Linked DNA regions of Homo sapiens: region 2 is linked to region 1. The links come from fine-mapping of genetic effects on gene expression. A gene starts in region 1. The other region holds a variant in brackets. All regions are shown on one strand. Distances are from middle to middle.

The links. PIP is the estimated chance that this variant, and not a neighbour inherited with it, causes the effect.
Region 2: its variant is fine-mapped to the expression of CASC8 in transverse colon (GTEx, PIP 0.93).

What each region holds. Positions count from the first base shown.
Region 1 is chr8:127,480,925-127,483,833 of GRCh38, reverse strand. It overlaps CASC8 (cancer susceptibility 8), which reads left to right and starts at 1,695. Exons shown (of 6, transcript NR_117100.1): 1 at 1,695-2,200; 2 at 2,763-2,909.
Region 2 is chr8:127,431,875-127,434,783 of GRCh38, reverse strand. All of the region lies in intron 4 of CASC8 (cancer susceptibility 8), which reads left to right. Among named protein-coding and RNA genes, the nearest start is that of POU5F1B, 17 kb to the right of the region's middle. RefSeq lists an enhancer at 1,654-2,568. The variant C/A (reference allele first, on the strand shown) is at 1,220.

The DNA.
Region 1 (2,909 bases):
AATTTCAAATGCAGAGGTTAAGATAGACCTCATTGAAAAGGTGACATTAGAGCAAAGGCTTGATGTCTATGTGAAGAGCATTCTGGACACATGGAGCAGCTGGTGCAGAGGACTGAAAGTGGAACATGGGTTGATTGTGGCTTAGCAATGAGGGGCAGTGCAGACAGAGGTGCAAAGAGGCATCAGGGGGGCCTAGTCATGAGAGGCTCTGCAGGTCATGGTTGGAATTAGATCTGGTGCTGTCCCTCTATGTTGTGGTCAGCAAGATGATTTCACCAGCAGCTTATTCAATATGCTTTCTAAGAAAATCATCATTTAACCAGTTAGTGTGGATTCTCCTGGCCAAATCCTAGTGTGCAAATATGCTGGAAACATTCAATCTTGTTTCCAGCAAGGCTTGGGATAATTTAGAAACTGTTCAATCAACTCAGTAAATATGAATTAAACATTTACAGTTGTATTAAATATTCGAAAGATAGGAACCAAAACAGTCTATCAAGTAATTGTACATATTTGTGCATTTACAAAATGCATATTCATGAGAGCTATGTAAATATATATTTAGTCATTTCCTCTTTCATGTGAAGTGCTATGGCTGAACTACAGATGGTAACTTTCTTGTGTCTGATTATGAAAATGGCACAGTAAAGCATTCTGACATTGTCCTTAGAAAAAGATCATTGTTTGGCCATTACCATGAGTTCAGTGTTCTTGGAACTAGGGAGAAGAAAGTTCTAGAACATGTCTGTTTTTGTGGCAGGCATCTAGGGAGGAAAGGCAGTTATTTCTAAGATACGTGGCTCTCATACTTTTTCCACCAAGGGTCACAAAAAGGAGGAGGTTTATGTGTAGGACATGCTGAAGTCCTGTGGGCTCTGTATTCCAGCCACAGTGCCACCCTTTCTTTCTCTGTCAGGAAAGCATAGTGGGAGGGTAGGGAGTGAGCATAATGACATTTTGGGTTAATATTTAATTCATTCTAATTTATTCAAAAACGTGTCTAACTTCTCATGATATCTATTAATACTAACATGACTGGCAACCCCTCACAACTGCCTCTGACAACTCTTGTGGGTCCTTCTGCCACATCTAAGGACTCTCTGGATAAGGAGATGGTGAGAGAACACACATTCTAATTTTGTCTTTGTGTGAAGGTCTTATGTGAAAATCTTTCTGGGAATTAGAGTTTTCTAAAGGAATCTCTATTTCCTAAGGTCCTGATACTCTTACTAGCATTTGCCAGTTAATTCTGTGAGACCCAAATGTGTGCAGGGCCTGGACACTTTATCTCATACTAGGTCTCTTCCTTAACCATCCACTATTCCCCAAATATTTACACAGGTGGACTGCGTAGTTAGACTGATATTTGTGTCAGCCTTGAAAACTCAGGATGACTCTCGAAGCCGACTGCTCATGAAGTATCGTTGCTTGGATCTCCTCTTTTGGAGACTAAGGGAGCTTGACTGTGTGCAAGTTAGCAATAAGGACTGACTACTGGATTAGGTGGACCACGTGAATATCATCTTGTGGTGGCCTTTTGGGATCTTCTGATCTCACTCAGAGTAAAAGCCAAAGTCCTCACTATGACCTAGAAAACGCTTTGTGATCTGTGCCCCCAGGTCTATGACTTCACCTCTAACTAATCCCCCTCACTTGCTTAACCTCCTTCCTCAATGGCCTCTCTGCTAGCTCCTTGAACCACCCCAGGCCCTTTGCACCTGCTATTCCCTCTCCTCAGCATGCTCTGCCCCAGACAATTGCAATGCTAACTTCTTACTTCCTTCAGGTTTCACTCAGAAATGACTTTCTCAGTGGGGTCTCCCATGACCATTTTATTTAAGATTTCAACTACTTTGCCAGTATTTCACTTCTCCTCCCTTGATCTTTTCTTCCAAGCACTCACTGCCCTCTTGCACACTGTATCTTTTACTTATTTATCTTGTTCAGTTTCTGCCTGCCTCACCTGCCTCACCACAGTGTACATTTCACGAGGGCAGGGATTTTGTCTGTTTTGTTGATTGCTGTAGCCCTGGCATCTTGGGCAGTGCCAGCACCTGTTAGCATTAAATACATATTTACTGAATGAATGAGTGGCTTCATGCTTAAAAGCAAGAAGAGAGACCTTCATAGAGAAGTAGGAAAATGAATTGTTGCACAAATAAAGGGCCATGTAATGAGAGAGAGAGAGCAAGAGAAAGAGGTGAGATGCTGATAGATTTTCCAAAAACATTCCAGTTCCTACTTCCCATCTTTCATGAACCAAGATTTTTACTTCCTATCCATGGGCTATCCCTAAAAATTCCATTTTCTTAGGCTACTGTAATAGGGCTTGTCTTTATTGCTACCAAAAATCTCTAAGCAAAAAAAAAAAAAAATAGAGTCAAACTAGAAGATGCTAATTGTTTTCTCAACATCCAGCATGTCTTTGGAGAATGGGGTTCTCATGTAGCAAACAGTTTTGTGGGTTCTCTTCCGTGTTTCCTTTCTTGGATAACTAGGTCACAGACAGCTGGTGTTTCCCATGTGGCAAAGGGAGCATGCAGAGAAATCCCCGCCTCCTCTCTCTTTGCTTTTCAAGCCCTGCTGAATGCCTCCTAATGATTTCATCTGCTCGGAGGTCTGCTGGCTTTTCCACTCTCGTAGAAGCTGGTGGCGCCGGGGGCTGATGCATGCTCTGACTACTGACTTGAAACATGCTTTGATGAATTAGTGCAACTCGGCCAGCCATTTACTTTAAATTTTACCCTTGATTCTTCCTCTAGCAAACAATTAAGGAGCAGCAGTGGCTTCCTGCAGGGGAGACCAATGCCTTCTGTCCTCAGCGGAAACAGCTTGGCATTCTTCCAATTGATGAATGGCATGGACCAGGAGCACTAGTTATCTTCAGCTTCTGAGCATCCGAATAAATA
Region 2 (2,909 bases), 49 kb after region 1:
TAGGTTTTAAAAGGCCATGCTGTAGCAGGTGAGTGATAACAGGCTTTAATCTTTTTAAAGCGTGCTGCGGGATGGGATATTGGCGTTGAGTGGGGTAAGGGTGATTAGGTTTTAATGAGATGGTAAGGGGTCACCAAGGAGGGAGTAGAGGTATCTTATACTTGTGGGTTAGGGTCGGGGGATACAAGAGGAGGACGCAAGGAGGCTTTGGATTGGGAAGAAGGGCGGCAATGAGATATAGCTGTAGTCCAGGAATAGTCAGGGAAGCAGATAATTTAGTTAAAGTGTCTCAGCCTAATAAGGGAACTGGGCAGGTGGGGATAACTAAAAAGGAGTGCTTAAAAGAGTATTGTCTAAGTTGGCACCAGAGTTGGGGAGTTTTAAGAGGTTTAGAAGCCTGGCCGTCAATACCCACAACAGTTATGGAGGCAAGGGAAACAGGCCCTTGAAAAGAAGGTAATGTGGAGTGGGTAGCCTCCATATTGATTAAGAAGGGGACGGGCTTACCTTCCACTGTGAGAGTAACCCAAAGCTTGGCGTCCGTGATGGTCTAGGGGGCTTCCGAGGCAATCAGGCAGTGTCAGTCTTCAGCTGCTAAGCCGAGAAGATCTGGGAAGGAGTCAGTCAGAGAGCCTTGGACCAGCGTTCTAGGGGCTCTGGGAGTGGCTGCCAGGTGAGTTGAACAGTCCAATTTTCAGTGGGGTCCCACACAGATGGGACACGGCTTAGGAGGAATCCCAGGCTGCGGGCATTCCTTGGCCCAGTGGCCAGATTTCCGGCACATGTAGCAAGCTCCTGGGGGAGGAGGTTCTGGAGGAACGCCTGGCCGCTGCGGTTCAGGCGTTTGGAAGTTCTTGTGTGCTGCAGATGTGGCTGGGGTTTGTCTCACAGTGGAGGCAAGTAATTGCAACTTTTTTCTATTATTGTACACCTTGAAGGCGAGGTTAATTAAATCCTGTCATGGGGTTTGAGGGCCGGAATTTAATTTTTGGAGTTTTATTTAATGTCGGGAGCAGAATGGGTAATAAAGTGCATTTTGAGAATAAGACGGCCTTTTGACCTTTTAGGGTCTAGGGCTGTAAAGTATCTCAGTATTGCTGCTAAACAAGTCATGAACTGGGCTGGATTTTTATATTTGATGAAAAAGAGCCTAAACGCTATCTGATTTGGGATAAAGAAAAAGGAGCATTAACCTTGACTATGCCTTTAGCTCCAGCCA[C/A]CTTTCTAAGAGTAAATTGCTGGGCAGGTGAGGGAGGGCTAGTCACGGAAAGAAACTGTAAGCCGGACCAGGTGTGAGGAGCGGAGGCGATAAAAAGATTATAGGGTGGAGGAGCGGAGGCTGAGGAAGAATTGGGACCTAGCTCGGCCTGGCGAGGAGGTGAGAGGTCAGATGGGTCTGTAGAAAAGGAAGATTAGAAAGACTCAGCGATGCTTGGGGTTGGGACTGAGGGGACAGGCGGGAGGGAAAGAAGGAAGATTTGGGACGAGTTGTACTGGGCACAGAGACTAGGAAGGGACTGATGTGTAAAAGAATGCCTGGACGTCAGGCGCCTCGGACTGTTTGCCTATTTTACAACAAGAATTATTTAGATCTTGCAGGATGGAAAAATTCAAAGTGCCATTTTCTGGCTATTTGGAACTACTGTCGAGTTTGTATTGGGGTCAAGTGGCATTGCAGAAGAAAATAAGGCATTTAGGTTTTAGGTCAGGTGTGAGTTGAAGAGGTTTTAAGTTTTTGAGAACACAGGCCAAGGGAGTAGAAGGAGGAATGGAGGGTGGAAGGTTGCCTATACTGAAGGAAGCAAGCCTAGAGAAAAGAGAGAGTAGAGAAATGGAGGGAAGGGGTTCGGGGGTTCTTACCTTCCAGAAAAGGGGTGGGGTGCAGAGATAAGAGGTTGGGGTGTGGAAATAAGGGATTGGGGCACAGAGATATAAGAGGTTGGGGCACGGAAATAAGGGATTGGGGTGCAGAGATACGAGGTTGGGGCATGGAAATAAGGGATTGGGACACAGAGATAAGAGGTCGGGGTGCGGAAATAAGCAACTGGGGGGTTCTTGCCCCCCAGGAAAGCAGGACTTGCCGCTAAGGGTGAAGGAGAAGGGGTTGAGGGGTACTTGCCCCTGCCCCAGAAAAGCAGAGAAGGGGTTGGGGTACTTGCCCCTTCCCCAGAAAAGCGGGACTTGCCGCTAAGGGTGAAGGACCAAGGCAGGCGTCCCTGCGTGTGGTCTGACACCCTTGAAACGTGAGTGTATAATCAGAGAGGCGTCCCTGCAAGGATTAAACACCAAGGGAAGGCTGCCTTCCCAGTCCGTGACCGGAGCCGGAGTTTTGGGTCCACGGATAAAACGTGTCTCCTTTGTCGCTACCAGAAAATGAAAGGAATTGAAATTAAGGGAGACATTGAAGTGTGGCACCAAGATTGAAAGGAGAAAGAGGTTGAGGGATAGTGAGGGAGGTTGGAGAAGAGAGTAAAAAGAGGCTGCTTACCGGATTTGAAATTGGTGAGATGTTTCTTGGGCTGGTTGGTCTGAGGACCTGAGGTCGTAGGTGGATGTTTCTCATGGAGCAAAGAACAGGAGGACAGGGGATTGATCTCCCAAAGGAGGTCCCCCGAGCCGAGCCACAGCACCAAATTTCATGCGCGTCCGTGTGAAGAGACCACCAAACAGGCTTTGTGTGAGCAACATGGCTGTTTATTTCACCTGGGTGCAGGCGGGCTGAGTCCAAAAAGAGAGTCAGCGAAGGGAGATAAGGGTGGGGCCGTTTTATAGGATTTGGGTAGGTAAAGGAAAATTACAGTCAAAGGGGGTTTGTTCTCTGGCGGGCAGGAGTGGGGGTCGCAAGGTGCTCAGTGGGGGTGCTTTTTGAGCCAGGATGAGCCAGGAAAAGGATTTTCACAAGGTAATGT